Linked DNA regions of Homo sapiens. The protein of the gene in region 5 purifies or fractionates together with the protein of the main gene of each other region. This does not show direct contact. Each region holds a gene or a part of one and is shown on either strand. Other genes may lie near its edges. The genes, in order: TSKS, ANKS3, USP34, SMARCAD1, ZNF214 and MTCL3.

Region 1 (5,113 bases), on a different chromosome or scaffold from region 5:
AGTTATATCTCCATTTCACAGGTAGGGAAGCAGAGGCACAGAGAGGTGAAGTCCTCTCCATGAGGTCATACGGCTAGTAACTGGGAGAAATTAGTTGGCCCTAGGTCCTGTTGCCTTGGTTTCCAGAACAATTACCCACAGGAAACCCAAGACCTTCTGAGTCTTCAGGTTAGAAAGACACTTTGTGTAATGCTTTCTATTGCTGTGAAACCAATTACACCAAAACTTCAAACAACAAACTTGGAGGGGCTCAGCTGGGTGGGCCTGGCTCAGGGCGTCTCACGAGGTTGCAAACAAGATTTTGGCTGGGGCTGCAGTCACCTGAAGGTTGGACTGGGGCCAGAGGTTGTGCTACCAAAATGGGGCACTCACCTGCCCTTGGCTGGAGGCCTCAATTCCTTGCTACATGGGCCTCTTCATAGGTGGCTGCTTATGACATTGAGGCTATCGTTCCCTAGATGAAGAGAGAGCAAATAAGAAACAGTTCCTCTTATGAAGTAGTCTCTTACCTCACATATCATCAATTCTACTTTATTCTATTTTTTTATTTTTTGAGACAGAGTCTCTGTCACCTAGGCTGGAGTGCAGTGGCGCAATCTCGGCTTACTGCAGCCTGTGCCTCTCAGGTTCAAGCAATTGTCTTGCCTTAGCCTCCTGAGTAGCTGGCATTACAGGTGTGCACCACCATGCCCAGCTAATTTTTGTATTTTTTGTAGAAACAGGGTTTCACCATGTTGGCCAGGCTGGTCCTGAACTCCTGACCTCAGGTGATCCACCTGCCTCGGCCTCCCAAAGTGCTGGGATTACAAGCATGAGCCACCACAACTAGCCTGCCTTATTCTATTTCCTGGGTGTGAGTCACCAAGTCCAGCTCATACTCAAGTGAGGCAAATAAGGCTCCACGTTTTAAAGGAATGTGAAAGAATTTATGGACATATTTTAAACTATCACATTTTGTGGGATTTTTGTAGCTGCCCTTTATTGGGATGAGGAAGTTCCTTTCTTCCTTTCTATTTCTAGTTTGTGGAGTGTTTTTTTTTTTTTAATCATGAGTGGTATTTTGTCAAAAGCTTTTTCTCAACTGACATGATCATGTGTTTTTTTTCCCTTTTATTCTATTAATATGGTATGTAACATTTATTTGTTTTTAGAGACAGAGTCTTGCTCCATTGCCCAGGTTGGAGTGCAATGGTGCCATCATAGCTCACTGCAGCCTCAACCTCCTGGGCTCAAACAGTCCTCCCACCTCAGCATCCCAAGGAGCTGAGACCACAAGCACATGCCACTGTACCCAGATAATTTTTAAATTTTTTGGTAGAGATGGAGTCTCACTATGTTGACCTGGCTGGTCTAGAATTTCTGGCCTCAGGTGATCCTCCTGTCTCAGCTTCTCAAATTGCTGGGATGAGCCACCATGCCCAGTCATTGGTTGATTTTAGTATGTTGAACCAACCTTGCATTCCTGGGATAATTCCCAGTTGGTCACCATGTATAATCCTTTTTACATGCTGTTGGATTTGGTTTGCTAGTATTTCGTTGATGATTTTTGTGACCATATTCATAAAGGATATTGGTCTGTGGTTTTCTTTCTTTCTTTTCTTTTTTTTTGAGATGGAGTCTCGCTCTGTCGCCCACACTAGAATGCAATGGCACGATCTCGGCTCACTGCAACCTCCGCCTCCCAGGTTCAAGCGATTCTCCTGCCTCAGCCTCCCAAGTAGCTGGGACTACAGGTGCCTACCACCGCGCCAGGCTAATTTTTGCATTTTTAGTAGAGACAGGGTTTCACCATCTTGGCCAGGCTGGTTTCAAACTCCTAACCTCATAATCCACCCACTTTGGCCTCCCAAAGTGCTGGGATTACAGGCATCAGCCACCAAGCCCAGCCACCTGGCCCATTTTATCCTATTTTAAAAGTGTTTTTATTTTCATTTTTATTTTTAGAGACGCAGGTGTTACTTTGTTGCCCAGGCTGGTCTCAAACTCCTGGGCTCAAGCGATCCTCCCATCTTGGCCTCCCAAAGTGCTGGAAATACAGGTGTGAGCCACCATGTCCAGCCTTCTTATTGTTGTTTTTTATGAGACAGGGTTTTGCTATGTTGGCCAGGCTGGTCTTGAGCTCTTGGTCTCAAGTAATACACCCTCCTCAGCCTCCCAAAGTCCTGGGATGACAGCAGTGAGTCACTTGGCCCGGCCCCTGGAGCCTATTTGGAGTTCATTTGGCTTCTTGGATGTGTGGATTTATGTTCAAATCATCAAGTTTTGGAAGTTTTCAACCATTATTTCTTCAAATATTCTTTCTGCCCCTTTCTTTCCTTCTGGGACTCCCAGATCCATAGGTCTCTGAGGCTGTATTCATTCTTCTTCATTCTTTTTGTTTTCATGTTTCTCAGGCTGGATAATCAAAGTTGAGCTATGTTCAAGTTCACTGAATCATTATTCTGCTACAGAGCCCCCTCTAGTACATTTTTCACTTTGGTTATTGTACTTTTCAACCCTAGAATTTCTTTTTTGAGACGGAGTCTCTCTCTGTTGCCAGGCTGGAGTGCAGTAGTGTGATCTCAGCTCATTGCAACCTCTGCCTCCTGGGTTCAAGCGATTCTGCTGCCTCAGCCTCCCGAGTAGCTGGCTCTACAGGTGCACACCCCATCCCCGGCTAATTTTTGTATTTTTAGTAGAGACGGGGTTTCACCTTGTTGGCCAGGATGTTCTTGATCTCTTGACCTCGTGATCCGCCTGCCTTGGCCTCCCAAAGTGCTGGGATTACAGGTGTGAGCCATTGCGCCTGGCCCTTCAACCCTATAATTTCTATTTGGTTTCTTTTAATAATGTTTGTCTCTTTAGTGATATGCCCTATTTGGTGAGACATTATTCTCTCAATTTCCTTTAGTTATTTAGGAATGGTTTCCTTTAGCACTTCGAACATATTTAAAGTAGCTGATTTAAAGTGTTTGCCTAGTAAGTCCAAATCTGCCCCCGCCATCCTACCCCTGAACAGTTTCTCTTGACTGCTTGTTTGTCCTCCATTGTATAGGCCATAGTTTTTTTTCTTTGCATGCCTTATAACTTTTTTGTTGAAAACTGGCCATTTTTTATTTTTTATTTTTTTTGAGATGGAGTCTCACTCTATCACCCGGGCTTGAGTGCAGCGGCATGATCTTGGCTCACTGCAACCTCTGACTCCCAGGTTCAAGCGATTTTCCTGACTCAGCCTCCCCAGTAGCTGGGATTACAGGTGTGCACCACCATGCCTGTCTAATTTTTGGATTTTTAGCAGAGACGGGGTTTAACCATGTTGGCTGGGCTGGTCTCAAACTCCTGACCTCAGGTGATCCACCTGCCTTGGCCTCCCAAAGTGCTGAGATTACAGGTGTGAGCCACCGTGCCTGGCCTGAAAACTGGCCATTTAAAGTATCATAATGTAGCAGGGAACGGTGGCTCACGCCTGTAATCTCAGCACTTTGGGAGGCCAAGTCAGGCAGATCACCTGAGGTCAGGAGTTCGAGACCAGCCTGACCAATATGGTGAAACCCCCATCTCTACTAAAAATACAAAAATTAGCCAGGCGTGGTGGCGGGTGCCTGTAGTCCCAGCTACTGGGGAGGCTGAGGCAGGGGAATCGCTTGAACCCAGGAGGCAGAGGTTGCAGTGAGCCGAGATCATGCCACTGCACTCCAGCCTGGGGGACAGAGGGAGACTCTGTCTCAAAAAAAAAAAATACAATAAAAAATAAAGTATCATAATGTAGCAACCCTAGAAACAGATTCTCCCCACTCATAAGGATTTGTTGTTATTATTGCTTGTTATAGTTGCTTTTTATTTTATTATTTTTATTTATTTATTTTTATTATTATTTGAGACATGATCTTGCTCTGTTGCCCAGGCCACTGTACAGTGGCATGATTGTGGCCCACTGCAGCCTCTAACTCCCAGGCTTAAGGGATCCTCCTGCCTCAGCCTTCTGAGTAGCTGGGACTACAGGTGTGCACTACCAAGCTCAGCTAATTTTATTTTATTATTATTATTATTATTATTATTATTATTATTGAGATGGAGTCTTGCTTTGTTGCCCAGGCTGGAGTGCAATGGCGCGATCTCGGCTCACTGCAAGCTCCGCCTCCCGGGTTCACACCATTCTCCTGCCTCAGCTTCCCGAGTAGCTGGGACTACAGGCGCCCGCCACCACGTCCAGCTAATTTTTTGTATTTTTTAGTAGAGACGGGGTTCACCATGTTAGCCAGGATGGTCTCGATCTCCTGACCTCGTGATCCACCCGCCTCGGCCTCCCAAAGTGCTGGGATTACAGGCATGAGCCAACACGCCCGGCCTATTTTATTACTATTTTTTAAGGGATTAGGTTTTACTATGTTGCTCAGGCTGGTCTTGAACTTCTGGGCTCAAGCAGTCCTCCCACCTCATCCTCCCAAATTGTTGGAATTACAGGTGTGAGCTACTGCACCTGGCCTGTAGTTGCTTTTTAAAAAACAGACTTTTCTGAACTATTTCTGTAATATCTGTGTTCTTTGTCATGTTTGGCCACTGAAGTCTCTGTTCTCTAATTTTAGTGGTTAGCTAATGATTGGAGAGACATTTCCTTAAACTGGAACAACAACAAAATCTTCTAGTCTTTGCCAAATGGCACTCTGTGTGCCTGATGAGGCACACCTTTAACACTCAGACAATTTACAACTCTACCTTAGCCTTCCCTTCCTGCTTGTGCAGCGTTTCAAGGTTTCAAGGTCAGCCAGAGGTGAAAAGCTTGGGGCCTTCTCAGAACTTTCCCAAGCATGTACACAACCCTACACAGGCCAATGGCTTTCTACATTCCCAGGAATTTGTTGGAACATTTCAAGGCTTCTACAGATATGTCCATCAGATTTTCCTTTTAAGATTTTTTGCTTTTTATTGTTTACCCCAACTGTTATCCATTGCCTTCGGCAGTAGCAACATTAAAACAAGCGTAAAATTTTTTTTTCTTTACAAATGTTCCCTCTCCCACTCCATGTTAGTCCATTCTTGCATTGCTATAAAGGAATACTCAAGGCTGGGTATAAATAAAAGAGGTTTAACTGGCTTATGGTTCACAGGCTATCTGATAAACATGGTGCCAACA
Region 2 (5,113 bases), on a different chromosome or scaffold from region 5:
CCTCAAAGGGTCACGTTTGGAATTCTCAGGCTCTTAAGTCTTTGGGTGTCCTGTTAAGATGCAGAGTCCATAACCGCTCCATAGAGGAGCAGGGGGAGGCGTTTGTGTTGTGATGGGATTTTGACACTAGCTGAGGTGGAGGCTTGCTGATAGTAAGCACAGGATGGGGCCTGAGGGGAGCTGGGGGCATCAGAAGGAAGGGGTGGGGCTGAACGAGGAGTGGTAAGAGAGCCCCAGGGAGATGCTCTGCTGTTGTGTAAAGGAAGATAGTGTTAGGACGAGCTGGGTGCATTCGAGCCCTGCTGCAGAGGCATCTCCATGCAGCCCCCCTGGCCAGGGGCTGCCACTGAACCCTGGTATCAGGACCTTCTGGAATGGCTGCCCAGGTGTGCATCCCAGAGTCACTGAGGGCTGCCAGGCAATGGAAGGTAGTTGCCTGCTGTGGTCTAATATGTGAATCCCGGCTGGGCGCGGTGGCTCACGCCTGTAATCCAGCACTTTGGGAGGCTAAGGCGGGTGGATCACGAGGTCAGGAGATCGAGACCATCCTGGCTAACACGGTGAAACCCCATCTCTACTAAAAATACAAAAAACTAGCTGGGCGTAGTGGCGGGCGCCTGTAGTCCCAGCTACTTGGGAGGCTGAGGCAGGAGAATGGCGTGAACTTGGGAGGCGGAGCTTGCAGTGAGCCGAGATCGCGCCACTGCACTCCAGCCTGGGCGACAGAGCGAGACTCTGTCTCAAAAAAACAACAAAAAAGTGAATCCCGTAAAAGGGACAGATCCTGGGGTTCAGTCACCAGTTGTTATCCCCTCTGCAGGCAAGAACTGGGGAAGGGAAAGAAGGCCTGTGGGCGTTAACCATGTAGGATCCCAGGTAACCATGCAAGTGGGTATTATTTTAAATGTGACTCCCTTGTCCCAACCCCAGAGTCGCAGCTAGGAAGCCCACAGTTTTTTCCCATGGGAAAATGCATTGCCAGAATTTTAACAGCAATCAGTGAGAAAGATGGGATTCTTTGGTCACAGATTTTTCAAGAATGTTTCTTTAAGGTGAGGTGACAAAGGATGAATCAGTGGCGGTGGGACTTGTCCACGGTGGAGTCCCTTCTTTCCTCACTGCTCCTCTCCACCCAGCAGTGGGCTAGTAGATGCCAGGCCTGTGGTGGTCAGGGTTTTTCAACTGTGGCTGTGTTGACAATCCAGGCTGGATCATTCTTTGCTGTGGGGGCTGTCCTGGACACTGTGGGATGTTTAGCGGCAGCCTTGGCCTCCAGCAGCCCTTCCCTGCCCAGTTGTGAGAACCAAAAATGCCTTCACACATTGCCACATATTCCCTGGTTGAGTGCCATCTGCCTATCTGGTGGTGTGAAAGAGCATAGCTGGCCTTGGGCTAGGAGGATGCGAAATCAGAGCAAGGAGACGAAGGCTCAGGGCCTCACAAGGCAGTGTACGAGCAACTGTCAGCATTTTTCTGCCTGCCTGCCTCCAATCCCCACAACGTCCAGGGTGGCAGATAACTTCTGCTTCCTGTCAACTCATCCCGCCTGGCCTAGCCTCGCCACCAGCTTTGGTGAACCCCACATGCGAGGCGGCTGGCCATGTCTAGCATATCTTGCGTTTGTTTAGGAGAGAGTTAGATTTGAATAAGAAGAATGGTGGTGGCTGGACCCCGCTGATGTATGCCTCCTACATTGGCCACGACACAATCGTGCACCTGCTGCTTGAGGCGGGGGTGAGTGTGAATGTGCCGACCCCAGAAGGGCAGACTCCACTGATGCTGGCCTCCAGCTGTGGCAACGAGAGCATCGCCTACTTTCTTCTCCAGGTGAGCTACGAGGGAACTCAGGCCCAGAAACCTGAGGGGCTCCGTGGCCACCCTGACAGAGATGCGAACCACTGCAGGCCACGGTGTTCGTGTGTGCTCGTGTAATCACTTCTGATTCTTGCAGCATGGCCGCCTGGAGGGCGCCCGCCCCACGCAGAGGAGATGAGGCCGTAACGCACGTTCTGTGTTCTCTTGAAGCAAGGTGCAGAGCTAGAAATGAAAGACATCCAGGGCTGGACAGCCCTCTTCCACTGTACCAGCGCCGGGCACCAGCACATGGTCAGGTTCCTCTTGGACAGTGGAGCCAATGCCAACGTGAGGTGATTGCCACATCTTTAGTGGCCACAGGAGTGGCCTAGGTGTCATCTGACTCTAAGGAGGGTGGCTCTGGAGGCAGCTAACCAGAGTTTAGGGCCACCCTGCTTCGGCACGAGAGGCTCAAGATGAGGGGTAGGACCAGAGTCCTTCCAGGCACAGGCCTTTTCGTACATCTGTGAGATGCATCTCTTCAAGCCCTCTCAGCTTCCTTTTCTTTATCTGAAACCCACCTGGGTCATACAGTTGTAAGAATTACATGTTTTATTGTATGCCAGGGGCCTAACATACTGAATGGCATTTAAATGTCATACATTACATGCAAATTCCTTCCATTTTCTTGCTTTTTGTATGGATGAGGTGAGGTGATGCTTTGAAACAGTCATGAGGCCGGGCGTGGTGGCTCACGCCTGTGATCCCAGCTCTTTGGGAGGCCGAGGTAGGCAGATCACGAGGTCAGGAGATCGAGACCATCCTGGCTAACATGGTGAAACCCCATCTCTACTAAAAATACGAAAAAATTAGCTGGGCATGGTGACGGGCGCCTGTAGTCCCAGCTACTCGGGAGGCTGAGGCAAGAGAATGGTGTGAACCCGGGAGGTGGAGCTTGCAGTGAGCCGAGATTGCACCACTGCACTCCAGCCTGGGTGACAGAGCAAGACTCCATCTCAAAAAAAAAAAAACAAAAACAACAGTCATGAGTTTTGGCCGGGCTCAGTGGCTCACACCTGTAATCCTAGCACTCTGGGAGGCCAAGGCGGGCAGATCATGAGGTCAGGAGTTCGAGACCAGTCTGGCCAACATGGTGAAACCCCGTCTCTACTAAAAATACAAAAATTAGCTGGGCGTGGTGGCAGGTGCCTGTAATCCCAGCTACTCGGGAGTCTGAGGCGGGAGAATCACTTGAAACCAGAAGGCAGAGGTTGCAGTGAACTGAGAGATCGTGCCACTGCACTCCAGCCTGAGCAACAAGAGCAAAACTCTGTCTCAAAAACAAACAAAAAACCAGTCATGAGTTTTATAAGTTGGAAGTGGGATTGTTGTCTAAAGCTTGTCATGATAATAATCACCTTTGAACAAACGCAGCGGGTACCAATGCAGCACCCACCCTGGCTGTCATTCATTCTAAGACACCTGATAATTTTGTATGCCACTAAGAAAGAAAAAATATGCTACTAATTAACATTCAACTCGCCTGTTGATTTAAAGATGTTTTCTGACTTGAGAGATGTTAAAATATGAACACTGTGTGTCTTAAGATGGATGAAAACCAGCATTTCCCATGCATGGTTCCTGACTTCCAAACCAGCATGAGACAAGGAGGGATTTGGAAGCCCTCTGAAGACAGTGCCGAGTTAGCATAACCAAGCATGAAAAGCAAGCTTCAGGAGCTAAGCGTGGCAAAGATAGCTTAGATCATTAGTACTTGAACTTTTCAGAGTGGGTTCATGGAGGACGTTGAACTTGAAGCCAGGATTTGGATGAATGGATGGGAGATGCTGGCTTTCTGTGAGGAATTAGAACAGCTTTTTGAATATGATTGAGGTGGAGATTTCAGAGGTAGCCAGTGGGAATAGCCAACAGGTGGGACGACAGGCAGACATCTGTCTTTAGGACAAAGACCAGCCCTGGGGACAGACACCAGAAGAGTAAATGGAGCTGATGTGTTATATTCACTGTTCTCATGTCACCTGTTAATTCTGGAAAGGGACAGTGTTCTACGCTTAGGGATCGGTGACTCGTGCACTGCTCAGGGTTTATCTTCAGCAGGGAGTTTTTGCCTGGCGGAACTTGTCTCTTCCAATCATCTGACTGTGGCCCACATCTTGCAGGGAGCCGATATGTGGATTTACTCCCTTGATGGAAGCAGCTGCTGCTGGCCATGAGATAATCGTGCAGTATTTTCTGAATCACGTAAGTGACCCTGATTATTAGCATGTAATGTAGTCACGGCAAATGAGGAATCATATTACTGAAGTATAAGCTATTACAGAATTTTCCTTTGCACAGAAATAACTTTCATTCATTTATTCAACACATTTTCATTATCTATTGACGCCCGGTGTTGAGTGGTGCTTAGGCATTAAGGATACAGTGGTGAGTAGAAATAGACACCTATTCCTGTAATAATTTTGAAAATACTATCTGAAAATTATGGAAAAATATTTTAAAAGTAAATAGCACTCATAATCCTGTCACTTAGAAAAATTATATAGAATAAGAAGGCAGAGATCCTCCTCTCTTTTTCAACCTCCCTGATGCCCACTTGGTTTGAGAAAGAGCTGCCCTAGGACTTTTCCTCTGCTGTGGAAAGATGTGTCTGTAGGCAAGTGTGTGCACATTGCTTTGTGTTTTGAACAAAGTGGGATTCTACGTATAGTCTGTAACTTAGAGACATCTTATAGACATCTTATCTTTGTACAGTATTCCGTGTACAATCTGCCTCAGTTAATTTAATGAGTTTCTTATTAGTAGAAACTTAGTTTTTAACATTTTGCAATTATAAACAGTGTTCCGGGAATATCCTTTTACACATAGCTTTAATACATTTGCAGTTATTTCTGTATGTTGTATTTCTGTTTTATTTTATTAATTTATTTTTTTGAGACATGGTGTTGCCCTGTATCCCAGGCTGGAGTTCAGTGGCGAGATCGTGGCTCACTGCAGCTTCAGCCTCCTGGGCTCAAGCGATCCTCCTGCCTCAGCCCCCAAGTAGCTGGGACTACAGGTGCATGCTACCATGCCCCGGCTAATTATTTAATTTTTTTTTTTTGGTAGAGTTGGGGGTCTCAGTATGTTGTGCAGGCTAGTCTTGAATTCCTGAGCTCAAGCGATCACCTCAGCCTCCCAAAGTGCTGGGATCACAGGTGCAAGCCTGTCCACACAGAACCTTGTACATAAATATTCATAGCAGTATTATTCATAATTGCCAAAAAGTAGAAAAACCCACAAGTCCATCTACTGAGGAATT
Region 3 (5,113 bases), on a different chromosome or scaffold from region 5:
TCCATTAGGATACATTTAATATATTCTGCGAAAACAGGATCTTCACACAAAAGCTTGATGCAGTTTTTTGACATAGCAGACTAAAGTGGGGAGAAGATGGTTGAGCACTTACGGTTGAGCACGGAAAAAACTTACACGGAAAAAACTTACACAGAAAAAACATACACTTGTGTATGATGGAATCTGAAGCCACTGAAAATCCTACTTGAAAAGCCATGTCTAACTCACCTATTGAATTTTTAGTTAACAGCAACTATTTTTCATACAGTAAAATGTTACTAATTTAGATTAAGGGAGTGCTGGGGGAAGACACTGATGCCGAAACTGAACAAATGTTTTAAAAGAAATGCAGGTTTATTATCCAGCACTGAGAGAGTTAACAAGGACTGGAAAAATAAGGCTAACAAAGAATAGGATGTGAATGTTTTCAAGGGCCAAATTAATGTATTTATAGGTAACCAGAGCATATGTTGCAAAAAGACACATTTTAAGAATCAAAATCAATTCTCCAAAATGTTTTAAACTTTACTGTATATTCTCGCTAGCAACAGTAATTCTGTAAATACCTTTTCCCCCCATAAACACTGCAAGGGTAAACAATAAATCTTCTTTCCTAATTATCTCACACAGAATCAGTGGTCTCAATATATGGAAATTTTACTAAAATTTGGTTTTCCTGTTTTCAAATAGTCATGGCTCTTAAACACAAGTAGTATGTCTTTAAGCAGATACACTCCATAGATTTAAATGTGCATTTTAATAATTTATATGGAAAAAAGCAATATATTTTTTAAATAGGACAAAATTTAGATTATATATATATATATATGCATATGTGTATATCTTATTAAAGTATGCAGCTGTCATAAGTAAATTACTCAAGGTCAGTCAAGAAATTAGGATTCAAGTAGGACCAAGACCCAGGTCTTGAGATCCTTAACACTAGGAAAAACCTGCCTTGGTCTACCAGTCACAGCCTGTGCCTCTGCCTCTGTTTCTTGCTCAGGATGGCTGCTTCTATAGCACTGGAAGCTTTGGAGGCCTTATATGGTTAGGCTTTGTTTTAAGGGAAATTTGGGGGCACAGTGAGTTCTGTCTGTGAAAGAAGTCAAGCGAAGGGAGTCCTGCGATGCAGAAGTAGAGAAAGCAATAGGGAGCAATAGGTAGTGGGAGAGTACAGAAACCAAGAAACTACCCAAATCAGGAAGAATGAAAAAGAACAGCAGTAGCAGTGGAGAGGGAAAACGAGATCTCCAATTGACTGAACAGAACACTCAGCTCAAAAATCAACTGATAAAAGTCATTTTCTGAATGCCTACTGTATGCTAAGTCAAGTGAGCTAAGATCAGTGTATACTAGCCTCTGAAAGATTTCTACTGTAGAGAACAACGTGGCATTTCTTCAGGGGATGGAGATGACTCTGATAAGGTCTCTACACTTGAGTTCTGTTTTGGAAAAGTAGAGAAACCACCAGTAGAGTACAGGATGGCAAACATCTAGGAGAATCCAGAGCACACTACAGCCTGGTAGGAGGCTGAACCAGACTCAAAATACTTCAGGAAAGCATGATGTGGGTCAAGGGTTGCACCTAAGGAAGGTGAATAAATTCATCTCTTCCAATGGGGTAGAGCAGATGCAACCAGGCAGTACAATCAACAGTTTTTTCAGGGACTGAAAGGTAGTGGGGATCCTTTATGCCTGATCCAAGGAATGAGCCAAACATTAGTACCTCCTCCTCTTCCCAATTCTGCCTTTGTAACTTAACAAGCATTATTTATGCAGCCACTTAATTTTAAGGAGTTGGCTCTTAGACACTTAAGGTAGGAACAGTAATCTTTCCTGTTTTCAAGGAGATCGCTGTAAGAAAACAAGTGCATCAGACCCCTGAAAAACTACAGATTATGAAAAGCTAAAGGACAGACTGCTGACAGGGTTTCTGCTAGAGGTTTTGGAATGGTGGAAAAGAGGTAGAGACAGGGAGGTGAAGGAGAGGAAGAAGTGGCAAGTGCCTTTTCCCCCACTATCTCCCTGTTTTGGATTTTCCCCACAACTGTTGATATACATCTATAAATGAGAAATTCAATTATAACCAGCTTATTTAAAATATCCTCTATGATAGAAATCTACTTAAGTTAAAAAAATCAAAGGGAAACTAGATGCCTAATATGTAATAGCTAGTATTTTCATTCATTCATATGTTACCTATCAAGATTCTAAAATGTCCCCACTTTTCAGCAAGTCTTCAACCCACTGTTCCTAAAATTATTGACCACTTGGTCAGATAAGATTAAAGACCAATCATCTAAAACTCATTTTCTTTACCTGAGTCTGGCATAGCTCAGTCCAAAGTTTGGGGAACAGTGCAAGATGAAGTGGCAAACCTTCATAGGCAACTAGGACACCTAATATTTGAAAAGAAATCAGAATAGGTTATAATTATAAATTATACTAGTGAGATACTCAACTCTGCAGGTACAATATTACAGCTATTTCTAGTCATAACTGCATATTTTCTATATTTTAAAGTACATAAAGGGGAAAAATTCATTCCAATGTTTAGTGAAATATCTTAGAATGTGGTACTTTGAATTTATTTATATCCTATACCTCATTCCTGAAGGATATGGGACTTAAATCAACTCTTCTTTTTTGAGTATTAGAACTTTATCTGGGAAAAGAAAAAGTTACTGCAAGTGGCTCCAAATCTTTCTTGGATTAAGGTACCACTCTGCCTATTAGATAATTTTCATAGGGTGGCTAGACTGCAGGAGGGAGGAGGGGAAAGGTAAAAAAAAAAAAAAAAAAAAAAAAGTGGAGAATTAAACATATCTTTCCTCTTTTACCTTCTTTCTTCAAAGATAGAATGACCTTTGTGGTACATTTAAGTAAATGCGGCCCTTAACACCAGTTTCTTGGCTTGTTCCCAGGATCTTCTGAGTGGACCGCATCTGGCACTATGTCAGAGAGTGCTATTTGGAACCTCTATGAATTTACTTCTCCACTTCTTGACTATTCCAGATGTAAAATATGTCACTAAGATGTGTGCCCCTATCCTCTGTCATCCTATCTCTGAAAGTACAGAAGCTTCATTACCACAGTCCTAAATGAATTTCCCATCTTCCACATCCCCTAGGGTCCCCAGGGCAAGTATAATCATGGAGAAGAAGAAATATAACACAGACCATCCTCTTCCAGTTAAGAAAAGACTGAGTTAGACAAGGAGTCAGCAAACTTGTTCTGGGAAGGGCCAAATAGTGTTTGAGGCTTTGTGGCCATGCTCTGTTAACACAGCTCAACCCTGCTGAGGCAGTGTGAAGGCAGCCTTAGACAAGAGTAAGGAAATGGGTGTGGCTGTCTTTCAGTAAAACTTTACAAACACTGAAATGGGAATCTCATAATTTTCATGTCAGAAAATATTCTATATTAAAAAAAAATTTAAAAATATGAAAACTATTCTTAGCTAGCAGGTAGCCATGGTTATACAAAAACAGGCAGCATGTGGGTTGTAATTTGCCAAACCGTGGGTTAGACCAAGGACTTGAGAACATCCTACACAGGCAAGTCAGGTCACTCACTCAGAACTTACCAAGGATGCCTAGGATCCCTTCCACAGGTAAGCCAATTTATTTTCCTGTCAAGATGAGTCCCTTTAGACACAAGAGGCAAGGAAATGCTACTTCCCCTTTATCCTAACCTAATCTGGTTGGTGTTTGGCAGCATATACCCACCACGGTATCACCACACACATAGGTAAACAAGGACATGTCATCACATCTGTGGCTATAGGGAAGAGAGTTCCTACGTTCCCATGTTCCTGTATCCTAATTACTCATCAAAGTAGAGGAAGGGTTAGCAAACTATGGCCCTCAGGCCAAATCTGACCCATGGCCTGTTTTTATATGGACTTGTGAGCTAAGAATGGCTTTTTCTTTGAGACAGACAGTGTCTTCACTCTGTTGCCCAGGTTGGAGTGCAGTGGCGTGATCACAGATCAGGGGCAGCCTTGAACCGCTGTGCTCAAGTGATCCTTACACCTTAGCCTCCGTAGTAGCTAAGACTGCAGGCTGGGACAATTTTCTTAAAAAAATATTTTGGGGCCAGGCGCAGTGGCTCATGCCTGTAATCCCAACACTTTGGGAGGCCAAGGTGGGCGGATCACCTGAGGTCAGGAATTCGCAACCAGCCTGACCAACATGGAGAAACCGTCTCTAGTAAAAATACAAAACTAGCAGGGCGTGGTGGCACATCCCTGTAATCCCAGCTACTTGGGAGGCTGACGCAGGAGAATTGCTTGAACGCGGCAGGCGGAGGTTGCGGTGAGCCGAGATCGTGCCATTGCACTCCAGCCTGGACAACAAGAGTGAAACTCTGTCAAAAAAAAAAAAAAAAAAAGTTTTGGGCCAGGTATGGTGACTCACGCTGGTAATCCCGGCACTTTGGGAGGCCGAGGCAGGAGAATAATGAAACCCCGTCTCTACTAAAAATACAAAAATTGGCTGGGTGTGGTGGCACACACCTGTAATCCCAGCTATTCAGGAGGCTGAGGCAGGAGAACTGCTTGAACCCGTAAGGCAGAGGTTGCAGTAAGCCAAGATTATGCAACTGCACTCCAGTCTGGGTGACAGAGCAAACTCTCTCAAAAAGTTTTGTAGAAATGGGGTCTTGCCATGTTGCCCAGGCTGGTCTCAAACTCCTGGCATAATTCATCCTCTTGCATTGGCCTTTGAAAGTGCTGGGAGTACAGGCATGAGCCATCATATCCGGCTGGCTTTTACATTTTTAAAGGTTAAAAAAAAAAAAAAAAAATCAGCCAGGCTGGGCATAGTGGCTCATGCCTGTAACCCCAGCACTTTGGGAGGCCAAGGCAGGCAGATCATGAGGTCAGGAGTTCGAGACCAGCCTGACCAACATGGTGAAACCCCGTTTCTACTAAAAATACAAAAATTAGCCAGGCGTGGTGGCACGCACCTGTAATCCCAGCTACTCAGGAGGCTGAGGCAGGAGAATCACTTGAACCCAGGAGGCAGAAGTTGCAATGAGACGAGATTGTGCCACTGCACTCCAGCCTGGGTGACAGAGCCAGACTCTGTCTCAAACAAAACAAAAAAACCAT
Region 4 (5,113 bases), on a different chromosome or scaffold from region 5:
ATTGTATATGAACTAGCAATGAAGATCTATCCACTGCTCAGTAAAGTAAGTTATAGCATCATTTGGAGATTATAATCAATTCTGTCATTTGAGAACTAAGAACATAGTAGAAATTCCTTTAGAGTTGCATTCTGGGAAATCAAAAGTGAATACAGCACAGAATTACTGCTTTTTCTTCTGTATTTTTATGTATTTATTTTTTGTTTGTTTTAAAATGTTATATATTGTCTTTTAAACTTTTTAGGGCCTAGGAAAAACTATTCAAGCCATTGCATTTCTGGCATACCTCTATCAGGAGGGTAATAATGGTCCTCATTTGATCGTTGTTCCAGCTTCAACTATAGGTTTGTAATACTGGAGACAACTGTATTTAACTTTATCATGTTTTATATAGGTAGAAGAGAGTGTGTGTAAGGGTGTGTGTCGGAGGGGTGTTGTGGTTTCTTAGTTTGTAGAGATGAATATTAATTTTATGGTCTCTTTATACTTTTCTCCTTTGTTTATATATGTGTGTTTGATTATATTGGCAGTCTTTTAAAAAGAACTCAAATGTAAGTCAGTTTTAAAATTTTAGACCAAGGACGATTTATGTTGGTTTCATAATACTTTTAGTTACTTTTAAAAGTGACTAAGAGAAAATGAGTACTTTTAAATGTAGAATTAAACAGATACGTAATTAATTCCTACACACATAACTGTTCCATTCTTTCTCAATTCGTTGGATGTAGAAGTTAGAATAAGAGAATATTTGTACATGTGAATGTAACAAAGAAAACCCCCTTCTCTTTAAATTGGAGGTTAATAATCAACTGTAAATATAATATTTGGTCATCTGCCCTTCATTTTGATGCCTCACAAAACCTCAAGATCATTTTACATAGGTTTCATAAGGAGTAATATTGTAAAGGGTCTGTGATAAAAACAATCGCCATGGTATTTATATTTTAATTTTTAATTTTTATTTATTTTTTTTAAGACAGTCTCGCTGTGTCACCCAGGCTGGAGTGTGGTGGCTCAATCTTGGCTCACCGCAACCTCCGCCTCCCAGGTTCTCGTGCCTCAGCCTCCCGAGTAGCTGGGACTACAGGCGCCCGCCACCATGCCTGGCTAATTTTTGTATTTTTAGTGGAGATGGGGTTTCACCATGTTGGCCAGGCTGGTATCAAACTCCTGACCTCAGGTGATCCACCCGCCTCAGCTTCCCAAAGTGTTGGGATTACAGGCATGAGCCACCTTGCTGGGCCAGTATTTACTTTTTATAAAAGACTGATTTCTGAGTAGCACTTGTCAAAGTTTAGTGTTAATTTAACCATGTGAACATACCCTATTGTAGCAGATGCAAATAATGTCTCTTCTGTTCCATAGATAACTGGTTAAGGGAAGTTAATTTATGGTGCCCTACTTTGAAGGTCCTCTGTTACTATGGTAAGAATATGTCATTCTGCTTTTAACTTTGGAAATTAAAAATAAAGTACAGCACAATAAATAGTCATGTGTTTATTGTTTTTAAATTCTAGGTTCTCAAGAAGAACGTAAACAAATTAGATTTAACATTCATAGTAGATATGAAGATTACAATGTAATTGTGACCACGTAAGTATTGAGAAATTTGGGGAGGATGGATATTTATGCAGCCCCCAAATTTAAAAAAGAAATTGTAGTAGTACTATGTAGGAAAGTTTATGCTGTTAACTGTGATACGAAAGTAATAGAATGACTAATGTTGAGGATTCAGGCATTTTTTAGTTTGGTGTGTAATACCCATATAGGAGGTTTTTGTTAGTGAATCACCTCATTAATGGTGACTATAAAAAGGTTTTGCCTAGTTATTGAAAAAAGTCGTCTTGTAATAGTAATTTCTCAGTTAAGCTTAAAGTAAAATTTGAGATATCCCACCAAAATTATTTATATTTTTAACTTACAAATAAGTATCTGTAATAAATACAATGAAATTTCATTTTCTCAATGAAAAATTTGAGTTAGGGCAGAAATAAAAATGAAAAATAATACTAATAATACTACTTGGTAATAATTGATGTAAATATCTTGCACAGAACTTAATGCTCTTGTGTTACATTAGTTGATTTATTTAAAGTTCTATTTTAACTGTAGTTATTATTTCTCTCTACTGGCTTCTTGTGTAGGAGTCTGTCCTTTAAAAATTCATGCGGAATTTTATTTTTTCTTAATAAAACAGGCTCCATATGCAGTCTCAAGCTGCTAGCTATTAACTATTATTTCTTGGATCTAATCTGCTAGTTTAATAAAATATTAAGTTTTAAAGAGAAACATGTTTTAGCTTCACGTTCTTTTTTGTGCTTATTAAAATATAACACTTCATGGAGCAGATTACTTACAAGTTATACCCAAATTGACCTCCTCCTGGGTATGTAGAAGTTGTCCGATTGTAACATTAACATTTTCTTTTTTTTTTTTTTTTTTGAGACGGAGTCTCACTCTGTCCCCCAGGCTAGAGTGCAGTGGCGCGATCTCAGCTTACTGCAACCTCTTGCCTCCCGGGTTCACGCCATTCTCCTGCCTCAGCCTCCTGAATAGCTGGGACTACAGGCGCCCACCACCACACCCGGCTAATTTTTTATATTTTTAGTAGAGACAGGGTTTCACCGTGTTAGCCAGGATGGTCTCGATCTTCTGACCTCGTGATCCGCCCGCCTCGGCCTCCAAAAGTGCTGGGATTACAGGTGTGAGCCACCGCTCCCAGCCTTTTAACATTTTCTTTCAATTATGTATTGCAGCTTTCATAGCTTGGTTACAGTGTACATCAATAATTATTAAATACAAGTACGTCAGTATTTATTTGAGTATCACCCGTGTCTAGTGCTGTGCTTTAAGTACTGGCTGTTAGAAATGTGTAAATAAAAAATGATTTTATAAGACATTAAATTTCACTAGACTCCAAGCTCTTAAAGGTATAACCTTAGAGATGTTTTTTCTTTTGGTGACAGATATAACTGTGCGATCAGCAGTTCTGATGACCGTAGTCTGTTTCGACGGCTGAAACTTAATTACGCAATTTTTGATGAGGGCCATATGCTGAAGAATATGGGCTCCATTCGCTACCAGCACCTTATGACAATTAATGTAAGAGAATGTTTGTAAAGTTTTCCAAATTACTGTAAAATTTAGATTACGTAATTTAATATATGTAGTATTTATTAGCAGAATCTGTATTATGTAGTTTAATATATGTAGTATTCTGTGTTAGCAAGTTTTTTCTGTAAAAGGGAAGATAGTAAATATTTCACACTTTATGGACTAGATGGCCTCTGTCACGTATTCTTTGATTTTGTTTTTTAACAACCCTTTAAAAAATTATTAGGTCATAAGCCATAATTTACCTGTTCTATATGTTAAACTATTTATAAATAATCTTTCATCATCTCATAAAGGTGATACGAGGACACAAGTTACCTACTTATAAAAGAAGACCAATGGTTTTCGTATTCATTGCTGTTGATAATAGCGGACGTCAATTATTTAAATTACTATATCATTTATCACAGAATGTTAAATTATTAATAATGGTTTTAATTTATCTCTCCTCCCTTCACCTTTCACTGGGGAGGATAGACATGAAAGGAGTGGCTCTTTAAGAAAAAGCTAATATAAATTTTACCTTCATTCACAGGCAAATAACCGTTTGCTGCTCACAGGCACACCTGTACAGAACAATCTGTTAGAACTCATGTCGCTGTTGAATTTTGTTATGCCACACATGTTTAGTAGTAGCACCAGTGAAATACGAAGAATGTTTTCCTCTAAGACAGTAAGCATAAATGCATATTTTCTCCCAAATATGTTATTTGTGTTTTATCTGGGCCATTCTTCTGTTAGGTCTCTTTTGTTGTTTTCATAGTGCATATGCTCTATGAAGTAACTTTAAGTAGGTGATAACTCTATATTTGGATTGGTTTGGAAACCAGCCAAAATATAATGGGAAAGAAAATAGCAATTTCCCTAATCAATGGCCAGAAGTCTTGGTTAATATCCTAATTTTCTGAAGGATGACGATTTTAAATTGATGAAGAGCTCAGATATATAGTATGTGCGGAAAGTTTGATCATTACATCATCTGTATCAAAATTGGCTACGTAAATTAGTAACATTTCTTTATGGGTAAACTATAAAACTAGACAAAGCTAGAATATCCAGAAAATGCCTATGCTGAGAAATATATTCTGAAATAAAAGTTCATAAAACCAAAGTCACAACTAAAAGCGACAGTAAAGAAATCCTCTTCACAAGAAAAGTTTTGTTACTTCTTTATTGTTTAGGAAAAGTATAGTCTTCAAGAACTCCCAGTTTTTTCAATACCGCAGTGTTTACACTGATTCTTGGCTCTCTTCCACATCACTAATCTTTTGCAAGAATTTTCTGTGATACTCGTCCACTGCAAATTAACTGCCTTTTAAACATTTACTAATTTGAATTCCCTCCCACTTAATGTACAGTGTTTTAAATGGCCTAGCAGATTTTATGAACCATTTTCTATCTTCAGTTCATAATATATGGAGGACTCCTTCACATCCTAGAATAAAATTCTACTTCTTAATTCTCCAGAGTCACCAGTTCTGACTAAGCACTATTCCCCATTTTTAGACCAAGTGATTTGCATCAGTCTGCACTAGCTTCCTTTTGGGGCCATTTTCCACAAAGAAATAAAGGATTTTCTACCCCCCACGCTCCTCCTTACCCACACTTAGACACATTTTTCAATGAGAGTTATCTAGGTAATCGATACATGACTCATCAGTTGATGACTTCTGAACACCCATCTGGTACAGTTCAAATTGATTACTTCAGTAGAGAACATGATTACGTATCATAAAACTTCAAAATACATATGGAGCTTCAAGAAGTACATGGCAGCCCAGAATTCAGATGTGAAGTGCCATCTAGAATGAATCAAGTTTCTGCAGAAAATAACTCAGACTCTAATGAGGGAGATTTTTATGTTGTGTAATAATACTGTTATTGCAATAATTTAAGTGAATAATTCCTAAAAGGATATGTTTTTATTTTGCTCAGAAATCAGCAGATGAGCAAAGCATATATGAAAAGGAGAGAATAGCACATGCAAAACAAATTATAA
Region 5 (5,794 bases):
ATCTTCACTGAGTGAAAAAGAAATGCTACATTCTTCTTCATTGCGTATTAAATGCACTACATATAAAGGGACAACAATAAAAACATTCTGATACCAGTGTAAGAATTGAGAAGAGGCTCCACAAAACAAGACAGCCTCAAAAGTAATCTTTGTATACATATGTGTATGTGTAATTTGTATATGAAAAGGTAGCACCACAGTCAGTAGAGAAGATAAATGTTAGTAGAAAAATTAAATAACCTAAGTAGGAAGTAAAAAGAATGTTTAAATTCTGTCATTTCTCACATCAAAATAAATTCTTGATAGATTTAAAAATTAAATGTTTAAAATAACACAATTAAGAAACAGGAAAATGAAAGCAATTACATATTAAATTTGGAAGTGAAGAAGAGATTTCAAAGCACAGAACTATATAAGTAAAAGAAATGAGATTTCATTTTATGCAAATTTAAAACTTATATAAACAAGTCCTTAAAGTAAAAGGCAAATGATAAACTAGGAGAAATATTTACAGCATATGACAAATGATTTATATGTTTTCCACACAAGAATATCTAATATCAAGTGGAAACAAAAAATTCAGTAGGAAAACAGTGATGTATATCAAAAGGCAATTCATCAAAGAAGGAATATAAAGAGTCAACGAATATATGTGAAAAAGTCAACCCTACTAAGGATTAAAAAGGATGCAAATCAAGGCAAAATTTAAAACTTAATACTCAGTGCTGGCAAAGGCTCAGTAAGATAGAATCATTCATCAAATGGTTGTAGGAGTTCAAGTTCACATAACATTTCTAAAAGAGAACTTCAGTTTTTCAAAAGCCTAAAACATGCTTATATCCTTTGATTCTGTTTTCCTATTTCTCAGAGTATATCTTGAGAAAATAAAAAGACATATACTTAACAAATTATGTATAAGAATATTTATTATAAGATATTTATAACAACAACATATTGGGAAATACTTAAATTTTCCCCAGTAAAAAGCAAACTTAATGGGAGTCCAAGGTGGGCAGATTGCCTGAGCTCAGGAGTTCAAGACCAGCCTGGGCAACACGGTGAAACCCCATCTCTACTAAAAATACAAAAAAATTAGCTGGGCATGGTGGCGTGCACCTGTAGTCCCAGCTATTCGGGAGGCTGAGGCACGAGAATTGCTTGAACCAGGGAGGCTGAGGTTGCAGTGAGCCGAGATTATGCCACTGCACTCCAGTCTGGGCGACAGAGCGAGACTCCGTCTCAAAAAAAAAAAAAGCAAACTTAAATAAAGCATACTATATACCTAGAATGGAACACTATACAGTCATTAAAACTCATGCTACCAAAACATGCTTGGAAAAATGCTCATTATATGTTAAGTGAAAAACGTATACAAATAACAGCTATTCATACATTGAATAAATATTTACTGAGTGCTTAGTATACGCACAGTACACTTCTATATACTGGGAACATTTCCTTCCCTCATGGAGACTATTTGTCATGAGTCAAATTTTTTAATTTAATGTTTTATATATACTAATCTTTTTATATACGTGTGTGCATATACCTAAGTTTATATTTGTACATGTGTATGAACATGTATACATACATATCAGTATTTGTACAGACTAGTGAGTACATATATACAATAAGTATTAAATAAAAGACTACAAGTAAATACACCCAAAGGTCAACAATGGCTGTCAATATGGTTCATGTGAAGAGATGCACAAGAATAAATAACAAATTTAAACATTAATTGCCTTCCACAATGTGGCTTTATACATTCATGTTTCACTTCCCTGTCACTAGCCTGGTTTCCTTATTTGTTCCCTCAAATTGTACCTGAGAGTAAATGATGGCTTTCCTATTTAGAATATCTTCCTACTCATAATTGTTCAAATCTGAGTTTCTGTTGCTGTGTTTTAAGTGCCACTCATTCTGGCACTGTTTAATGTCGATAACTTCAGAAATTATTATTAATCTCATATAGTTTATTACCCCCAATGTTAAGACTTTTTTTTTTTTTTTTTTTTTTTTGAGAGGGAGTCTTCCTCTGTTGCCCAGGTTGGAGTGCAGTGGTGCCATCCTGGCTCACTGCAACTTCAGCCTCCCGGGTTCAAGCAATTCTCCTGCTTCAGCCTCCTGAGTAGCTGGGATTACAGGTGCCTGCCACAATGCCTGGCTAATTTTTGTATTTATAGTAAAGACGAGGTTTCACCATGTGGGCCAGGCTGGTCTCAAACTCCTGACCTCAAGTGATCCGCCCACCTTGGCCTCTCAAAGTGCTGGGATTACAGGCGTGAGCCACCGCGCCTGGCGATGACATTCTTATAATTCTTTATCTCAGAACACCAAGAACAGCATGAATTATACACTAGACTTGAGTGACTGAATGAATGAATGAGTAAATGTTGGGAAAAGACACTGGGTTGGGGCAGGGTCAAGTCTGCACGCTCGAAAATTTCACAGGCAAGCGAGGAACGTTTTCTGTCCAGTCATCCATCCATCCTCATTGCCACCTCCACCACCCATGGAGAATGCAGGGACATTTTGTAAATGAGAAAAGACAATCATCCTCACTTGGGATCAGACTATGAGGGAAACAGTGTACATTCCTTCCTCCTTTGTGTTCCTCTTCTGGGGAAGGGTAGAGTGCTGAGACGGCTGAGCTGAGGAGGAAGGCAGACTGAAAACCTGGGTATGGCTTTAAATTCCCAAATTCATTAAATTTCCCATATACTAACTGGGTATGACGCACACATCTCCTAGCAAGAGGTCCAAAAGAAGCCTATGAATGCTCTTGTTTCCTTTCAACGACCAGAAAGGAGAGCTATGAACACTGGCACCTTGAAATTTATTTCCAACCCTCTAGAAACTTCAAAAGATACAACTCACTTATTTATTGAGATTATTATTACTACTAACAATAATAGGAAAGCACCAGCACACTTAAATAGTATCTATTCTCAAGGTATTTTTCTTATTTTGTTCAGTTTAAGTAGAAAATCATTCCATTGTCCTCCCCTACTTGCTAAACAGGAATACTGGATTTACTATCAGAAAAGTACCTGGAGTCTTAGAGAAGTATCCCAGAACTGGAGCTCCCAGGTCCTGATCAAAGTCTCAACTGTGCCATCAAGCACTTGTAGAACTTTAAAGAGGACCAAACTTATAGATCTCCAAGATCTCAGTTTCCTTACCTGTAAAATGGGGGCATGAGCCTTTGCCACCCCAGTCCTTCCTTGCTGATCAAAGGTAGGTTCCTGGGCAAAGTAATAAGCAATTAGTTAACCCTCTTTCTCTAGGGAAAAAACGTTTCATGCGTGCCCCAAGAGCAGGACAGGTTTGGGCTCCCCCAACGCGTCACGGGCTGCCCAAGTGTAAGCACCAGAGAACCAGACACACGAACGGTTCTCTAGGAGCGGGATCTCCCGGTCTCCGCCACAGACCCGGGGGTCCCCTGCTCCTGCACTGAAGACGCGCGCGGCCTCCGTTGCTTATCCAGATCCCCGGCCAGAACTCTGCCCCGGCACCGAACACCGGGCACCCATACCCCGGGGCCCAAGCTGCTTCTGCCCTCCTCTACTTGCCTTTATTAAGTCTTAACGTGGGAGAGAAGCCGTGATGTACCCATCTACACGGGTGTCTCTGGGGTTTCTAAACCGGAGTAGCTTCTCAGTCCCTGACCCTCGATTTTCTGCCCCTCTTCCTTCAAGCACAGCTCGTCTTGCCCTGTCCGCTTCTGGCTCAGTCCTCCTGAGAGTTCATGTCACTTAACGGAGCCTGTGAGAGTGGACCGGGATGGCCAAAACACTCAGTCCACACAAACAATGGCCGCAGCCCGGCTGGACCGAAACGGAAGTCCCAGGTCTTGGAGTAGACACTCGCAGTGTTTCCATGGATACGGGAGGGGCGGGGCGGGAAGAGAGAGCGCGGGAAAACGTGACTCCTGATTGGCCAGAAGTATCCCGCGCCTCCCGACCTTTGGCCGCTGGCATTCCTGCGCGGGCGGGAGCTGCGGGCGCTCGGGGGATAAGGCGAGGACGCACCAGCATTAATGGAATAGGAGAACTCCCGAAGCTTTTAGGGCCCTGGGAAAGGGGGCGTGGCTGGAAACGGAGCTACTGGCTTCGGAGAATTCTGTGACCCTCACCACCGCGACGACCCCGAGGAAACGCTGTCAGGTCGCCTTTGGTTGGCAAGGCGTGGTTGTCCTCGCTGTCCCGCGCCTTGGCGGAATGGGCACCTCACTAGCCCTGGCACTAGCTAGCATCGCTCTAAACTCAAGGTTAGAGGTTTTCAAATTCCGTCCTATTGTTGCCAGACACCCTCTTCGTTCCTGGTCCAGTGAGGCTTTCCTCCCTCCCGCCTTCTTGCCAAATCCCAGGCTCCTCTGGAGACTCCAGGCAGAGAAGGGAAACGCACAGTGGAGCTGAAATGAAGCCATGAGAAGGAGCCCCTCCTCAGTGTCCTGGGACCACAGAGAGTTGCAAGAGCCTGTTCTATTATTTAGCTGAGTGTGTTATATTAGGAAAATACTTTCGCATCTTTGGGCCCTGTCCTTCAAACTTGGGCTGGATCAGTAATATTCAAACATTTTATTAGGCAAGGAACTTTTGGTAGGATAGTCATTACAAGCAAGGGACTCCTTGGATTCAAATCTGACAACACCACTTACGAGATCTTGGCTGGATTACCTAACCTTTAAGCATCAGCTTAATAGGCGTAATATTGATAGCCAATAATAATAGTAACTATGTAACAGACTTGTTAGATTGAAATGAGTTAGTGTAGTTAAAATGCTTAAACCAGCCCCTTGCACATAGGAAGTAGTCTTGTGAACTATATATTTACAGTTTGGTGTTTAGCAGGGGTGGGTGGCCCAGCGCCTATCTGCTTGAGTTCACCACACAATAAGCTCTTGCATTTTTTATGACTCTGGAGACCACATTTTGAAAATTACTGGGCGTGGGCCTTCCCTGGTTTGAACATTCAGAGAGCATAGCATAGCATTTTAAAAATGTGGGCTTTGTTGTCTGACGGAACTGACATTAAGAGCTGTCAATCATTGTTATCCACTAGGTGGTGGTAAGCAAGTTGTTTAACCGCTCACCCTTAAGTATTTTCACCTGTAAATTGCAATGTATTTATTTATTTATTTTTTATTATACTGTAAGTTTTAGGGTACATGTGCACAACGTCCAGGTCAGGTTTGTTACCTATGTATACATGTGCCATGTTGGTGTGCTGCACCCATTAAATCTGTCTCTGCATTCAGTAATTCAACTATCAATTGCGGCTATTTAAATACATTAAAAAGCAATGTATTTAAATAGCCGCAATTGATAGTTGAATTACTGAATGCAGAGACATTGACCGGTAAGAACGAACACTGGAAGTGGGCTGTTCTGCCACACTGCTTCCAACCTGAGAATATTACCTGAACCTCATTGAACTAACCAAAATTAAAAGAAAAAAAAAAAGCTAAGAGGATCCAGTTTTCAGAGAAACAAAATGTGTATCTGAAGGAATATACCTGCTAAAGGGCAGAGGCCAATATGAATAACAAAGAGCACCAAGTATAGCATACGCAAGACTTTTAGGAATGAATTCTACCCAGTTACAGTTTGGGGTTTAGCAGGGGTGCCCGGCCTAGAGCCTATCTGCCTCCGTCCACCACACAGTGAGCATCTGCATTTTTTATGACTCTGGAAGCTACATTTTGAAAATTATTGGTCATGGACCCTCCCTGGCTTGAATGTGCAGAGACCCAAAGCACCAGCTTTGATGGGGGTCCTGGGAGCAGTCA
Region 6 (5,113 bases), on a different chromosome or scaffold from region 5:
CACCACCATAAAAATAGTGCTTGCCACATGGCAGGTGGTGAAAAAAATACTTGCTGAACTAATGATATATGAATACCAAATCGAGGTTCTGAGGTCAAAGAGAAGGACAGGGGTATAGACTGACAGTAAAAATAGGGAAGCCTTTTCCAAACAGGAGTCTTCATAAATTCGCAAAGAAATGAAAATTAAATTCTTCACATGTTAATTTCTAACCCATATCCACTGTTAAGTAAAGGCATACGTTCAAGCACAGAAGGCAGGGGAATACTTTGGTGCAACTGCTTTCATTCAGTATGAAACTGAAACTACACAGACAAATGAATAGCCCACGTGGTTATTCATTTCTAGTTCTTTACAGGAAGAAGTTCTTTCTGTTGCTTGTATAATCTTCTTAGAAAGGAAAGCTTGGGGACTGACTCACCATAACCAAAAAGTAATTTAGGAAGTAATCAACAAAACAGTCCCAAGAATACCAAGAATAAAGTGAGCTAAACTAAGAAACCTGGAACATTCTAGGTAGGGGCTGCCTACAAGAAGCGTTGAATTTGTTTCACTAAATACTTATTGAATGCTTGTATTTGAATTCACTCAATTATGTGTTTATTTAGTGACTACCAATGCACTTCATAACATACCTGTGACACAATAATAATGAAACCAATGTGATCTTTGCTCTTTTGGGGGTTCTCAGCTTACTTGGCATGATCTGTTCAGTCTGGAATTCAACACAGTGTTATGAAAGCAATGATAATACAAGAACAATATTAACTGTCATTGAGCCCTAATTCATGTCAACCCCTTCACATACATTATCTCAGCTAATTTTTAAACACTCCTTTTAGCCTCACTTTGCAGGTGCTGAAACTAAAGTTTACAGGGGTAACAGAAGTAGATGAATAAATTATCAAAAGCATCAGTTATCTCTGTGCTCCTCAGAACAGCATCATCAGTGTCACCCAGAAAGCTGTTGGAAAAGCAAATTCTTGAGATTCATCCCAGAACCACTGATTCAGAAACTCTGAGGATGAGGCCCAGTGATCTATGATTTAATAAGCTAAAGTTTGCAAATGTCTAAAGTTACTAGTTGGTAACAATAACTTCAGACCTTGACCCAAGTCTTTCTCATATCTAACTGTTAGCTATTAGATCACTAAGGAGAAAGACTTTATCTAATCTAGGGCTAGAGATGGTGTGGGGAGCTAGGGATAATTTCCAAAATGAGTAGCATCTTATCTAGAATCTGGTGCATGAGTAGTTAGCCAATGGAAGATGAAGAGGAGGAAAAGGGAAAAAAAAAGGCATTCCACATAGAAAAACCATTTCTGGGACAGAAATTCCATATGGGTGTTACAGAGTGAGAGGAGAGGAGTGACATGAGATTTGCTGGTGGCATAAGTCAGATCTTGAAGGACATTGAATAAAGATTGAATTTTATCTTATTCAGGTCAAATTATTGTCCTAGGGTCAACTTGGAGCACTAAATGCTCCTATTGAGCAAGAAATGTCATAATTAGACTGTCATAGAGATATACAAAGACACAAGGGTGGCAGTACAAATCGCTGTGAGATAAAGATGTTACATGCAGGGGTTTCAAGGGAAAGTATGTTCTAGTTCTGGAAATGTTTTTTGGTCTTTGTGTTTCATTCATTTCATAGGTATTTAGTTTCTGGTCTATATGTGGTACTGTATATATGCCAAACACATGTGACTAAGAAATATTGTACTCTTTCCCCAAAGAGCTAACTGTTTATAATGATAAAAAGGATGCAATTAGCAAAAACAGTGGGCAGAACTAACTCAGGGCAATAAATGAACAAAAAGGGACTGAGAGGGCAAAGGAAGAAGCTCTAATTCCAGATCTGGGGAATCAGAGAAAATCATTCAAGAGAACTGACTTTTGAAGGATATGCAAAATTTCAACAGAAATAAAACTGAACAAACTGTTGTAGGAGTAAAGATATAGAGGAATGAGTTTGCCTTTCAGATGCACTAACTCCTGAAAAGAAGTGATGGAGGTAGGGCCACTGTAGAGATGGGGTAAAAGAAGATGCAGAAAAGATTGAGGTCAGCTTGTGCAGCTGAGAAATTTAGACTTTATCCTGTGGGCAATGTTAAAATGAGACCTCTAAATTAATATAAGAGCAATGCTGAAATTAGGGCATTCTTTCCTAAGAGGCATTTTCTATTTTGCTTTTATTTAAATATCACTCAGGTGGAGTGTTAAGCTCAAATAAAGCTCTGAAGTAAAGCCTTCCCCTTGAATAAAGATACATTAGCTTTCAGGTGCCTTTAGGGCTGCTACTATGTGTAAGTATCACATTTGCATTTTCAATAAATATTTCATATTTTCATATTCCAGTAAGTTTATGTTAACTTTCTGAATCCTATGAAACAAAGATGAGACATTTCTATGGATACAGAAAGTTAGAGAAATAATGTGAGTCCAAGTAGTCCCTTTCCTGTGAGGATGAAACTGTGTAACCTCCCCCCTTGTCATCCTCCCCCACCATCATCCACTAAATCTTGTAACCTCTGCTAGGGGAGCAGTTGGGGAGGCCACAATGAAATCTCAGATTTTCATATTTGCTGGCAAAGCAGGCACTTCTCTAGATGGTTCTCTAGATAAATACGTTGAAAACATTTATTGTCCACTTCTTAATTCTTTACATTCCCAGCCTCAGCTTGTCCAAAAGAGGCTGCTGTTTTTTTTGATCATGAGAAGGCCAGGAATTAGAGAGTTTTGCCAGTAATTATTTTTTCACAGCAATGATATAAAATGGGTTGTTTGTTTTCTAAAAATGTTTTGAGATTATCTTCCTTTTCTCAATTAAAATTTACTCCACTTAGTATGTAGCATCTTTATGTTTTCAGCAATTAAACCACAGAGAAGAATGTGCCTAACATGCTACCAAAAGACATATTATGCATATAGAAGTCTCCTATGCTGTTGATAAAATTAAAGAGAGATTCATTTGTGTGGTAATTAAATCAAGAAGGAAACTATAGAGACATTAATATTTAGATCTTTTGAGCCCTAAATATGTGTCATGCACTTTTCTAAGCACTTTATATGTATCTACTCATTCAGACTGACAACAGACTTATTGACACCATTGTCTGAAGCACACAATGGATTTATCGCTCAGCTAGCTAGTGTTAGAACCAGGATGCAAATTAGCCAGTTTCAGAGTTCCCACTCTGAACAACTACATTATACTGTTACTTCGACAGAAAAAGGTGCAATTTAGATAGCAGGCTTATATTATTTCTGAGCATATCCTTTATGGTAACAGAGCGTGACAGCAAGGTTTGGGGTACTAGGTTACATATATGACACATGTGCAGAAGTTTTAATATTTTCAACACAGGGATCAGCAGAAGTGACATACACCACTTACTGGTTCTTAAATCAATCTGTAAATACTGTGACTATAGGGTAACACTGGGAGGGAGGCCCAGGGATTGCCTGCTGGAAGGAAACTGAAAAAGGTAGAAGCTCTGTCTCCAACTTGTCTTGGAAGGGGACAGAATGGGCTCTTGTTCCTAGAAGTCTTCCTCTTTTCCTTCTATTACATCCTTGACACTTACCCAGACAGACTGGCAGAGGCAGAACAGGTGAAGTGCCCAGAGAGCTTACTTAGGACCACATTCACTCTCTTCCCTAAAAGGGTGAGGCAGGATCCCAAGCTTCATACTAAGGCATGATCTTAAGGTCCAGAGGGGAATGTGGGTGAAGAAGAGGCACATGCCAGGGTGATCAAGCTGTATCATCCTGTGCAAAATCTTTCAGTGGCTTCCCATCTCACTGAGTTAGAGTCATGCTTTACTAAGGTATACCAGACCCTGACTACACACTGGATTTATTCTGGTAATGTTTTATAAAGACTTGACCAGATTTCAACCCAGACCAATTAAAACAGATTTTGGGATTGGGCCCAGACATTTTTTCAAAGCTCCCAGAGTGACTAGAATGTGTAGCTGGTTCTGTCAACTACCAGCCCACTCTATGTGGTCACCCCACCCCCCAATCCCACATCCCAAACAAGCCCTTCAACCTCATCTCCCACCACACTCCTCACTGCTTTCTTTGCTCTAGTGTCACAGGCATCCTTGCAGTTCCTCAAACATACCAAGTATGCCCTTGTTTGGGGCCTTTGGATTATGGCTTCCTCTGCCTGCAACATTCTTCCATCATATACTCTCATGACCCACTTCCATAGTCTCTTCAGGGTTCCTAATAAGAGAGACCTTCCCAGGCCATTTCATATCAAAAAGCAAATCCTTCGGCCATTCTCTTCCTTTGCATATTCCTTGTCTTCCTAATTCTGCTTTTTAATTTTTCCCCATAGCTCCTCTAATCTCACCAACTGACTTGTATATTTGTTTGTTTCAATGTCTGTTTTCTCATTCTGCAATGTGAGCTCCACAAGAGCAGGCTCCTAGAATTGGTCTCTGTTATAGCTCCTGCTCTTAGAAATATACCTGACACAAAGTAGTTGTTTAGTCTATGTCAGTTCAATGAGGAAACAGCCACTGTAGCTTTATTTCTTACCTAGATTTGTTTTGGAAGCGTTACTAAAAGTCAATAAATGATAACAGGTAAACAAAAGCCCATTTGAAAAGGTCTACTTTAAAAGTAGACCTTTAAAAAGCTGGAATATAAAATGGAAAGAAGCTGGAAAAATAAAAATGTCTTAGGCTTTTCAACAAAAAGACTAAAGAGTCAAAATTGTATGAGCTGAAAAGTATTTAAAACAGGACATATCACATATAGCTGGCCCTCTGTATCTACAGGTTTCACATCTGTGGATTCAACCAACCACAGATTGAATTTTTTTTAAGTACAACAATAAAAAATAATGCAAACTTAAAAATGATACAGTAAAAACCACTATTCACATAACATTTACATTGTATTATGTATCATAAGTAATCTAGAGTTGATATAAAGCACAGGCATACCTTGATTTATTGAGCTTCACTGTATTGTACTTCACAGATACCACAATTTTTACAAATTTAAGATTTGTGGAAACTCTGCATTGAGCAGGTCTATTCGTGCAATTTTTCTAAAAGCATGTGCTCATTTTGTGTCTCTGTGTTACATTTTGG

The links.
Region 1: the proteins of ZNF214 (region 5) and TSKS purify together in Homo sapiens (affinity purification with mass spectrometry; one large-scale study listed by BioGRID and IntAct). This does not show direct contact.
Region 2: the proteins of ZNF214 (region 5) and ANKS3 purify together in Homo sapiens (affinity purification with mass spectrometry; 2 studies listed by BioGRID and IntAct, with this or other methods). This does not show direct contact.
Region 3: the proteins of ZNF214 (region 5) and USP34 purify together in Homo sapiens (affinity purification with mass spectrometry; 2 studies listed by BioGRID and IntAct, with this or other methods). This does not show direct contact.
Region 4: the proteins of ZNF214 (region 5) and SMARCAD1 purify together in Homo sapiens (affinity purification with mass spectrometry; 2 studies listed by BioGRID and IntAct, with this or other methods). This does not show direct contact.
Region 6: the proteins of ZNF214 (region 5) and MTCL3 purify together in Homo sapiens (affinity purification with mass spectrometry; one large-scale study listed by BioGRID and IntAct). This does not show direct contact.

Annotation. Positions count from the first base shown.
Region 1 is NC_000019.10:49,752,496-49,757,608, reverse strand, and holds part of TSKS (testis-specific serine kinase substrate), read left to right. Parts: exon of another isoform or gene 1-454; intron 455-5,113. UniProt on the Homo sapiens protein: May play a role in testicular physiology, most probably in the process of spermatogenesis or spermatid development.
Region 2 is NC_000016.10:4,723,693-4,728,805, reverse strand, and holds part of ANKS3 (ankyrin repeat and SAM domain-containing protein 3), read left to right. Parts: intron 1-1,628; coding exon 1,629-1,827; intron 1,828-1,951; exon of another isoform or gene 1,952-2,025; coding exon 2,026-2,147; intron 2,148-3,974; coding exon 3,975-4,056; intron 4,057-5,113. UniProt on the Homo sapiens protein: May be involved in vasopressin signaling in the kidney.
Region 3 is NC_000002.12:61,190,579-61,195,691, forward strand, and holds part of USP34 (ubiquitin carboxyl-terminal hydrolase 34), read right to left. Parts: intron 2,403-5,113; coding exon 2,323-2,402; intron 81-2,322; coding exon 1-80. UniProt on the Homo sapiens protein: Ubiquitin hydrolase that can remove conjugated ubiquitin from AXIN1 and AXIN2, thereby acting as a regulator of Wnt signaling pathway.
Region 4 is NC_000004.12:94,273,373-94,278,485, forward strand, and holds part of SMARCAD1 (SWI/SNF-related matrix-associated actin-dependent regulator of chromatin subfamily A containing DEAD/H box 1), read left to right. Parts: intron 1-244; coding exon 245-344; intron 345-1,365; coding exon 1,366-1,425; intron 1,426-1,517; coding exon 1,518-1,593; intron 1,594-2,966; coding exon 2,967-3,102; intron 3,103-3,649; coding exon 3,650-3,787; intron 3,788-5,049; coding exon 5,050-5,113. UniProt on the Homo sapiens protein: DNA helicase that possesses intrinsic ATP-dependent nucleosome-remodeling activity and is both required for DNA repair and heterochromatin organization.
Region 5 is NC_000011.10:7,016,498-7,022,291, forward strand, and holds the start of ZNF214 (zinc finger protein 214), read right to left. Parts: upstream 3,850-5,794; 5' UTR 3,576-3,849; intron 3,254-3,575; exon of another isoform or gene 3,203-3,253; coding exon of another isoform or gene 3,186-3,202; intron 1-3,185. UniProt on the Homo sapiens protein: May be involved in transcriptional regulation.
Region 6 is NC_000006.12:127,484,002-127,489,114, forward strand, and holds part of MTCL3 (microtubule cross-linking factor 3 precursor), read right to left. Parts: intron 1-5,113.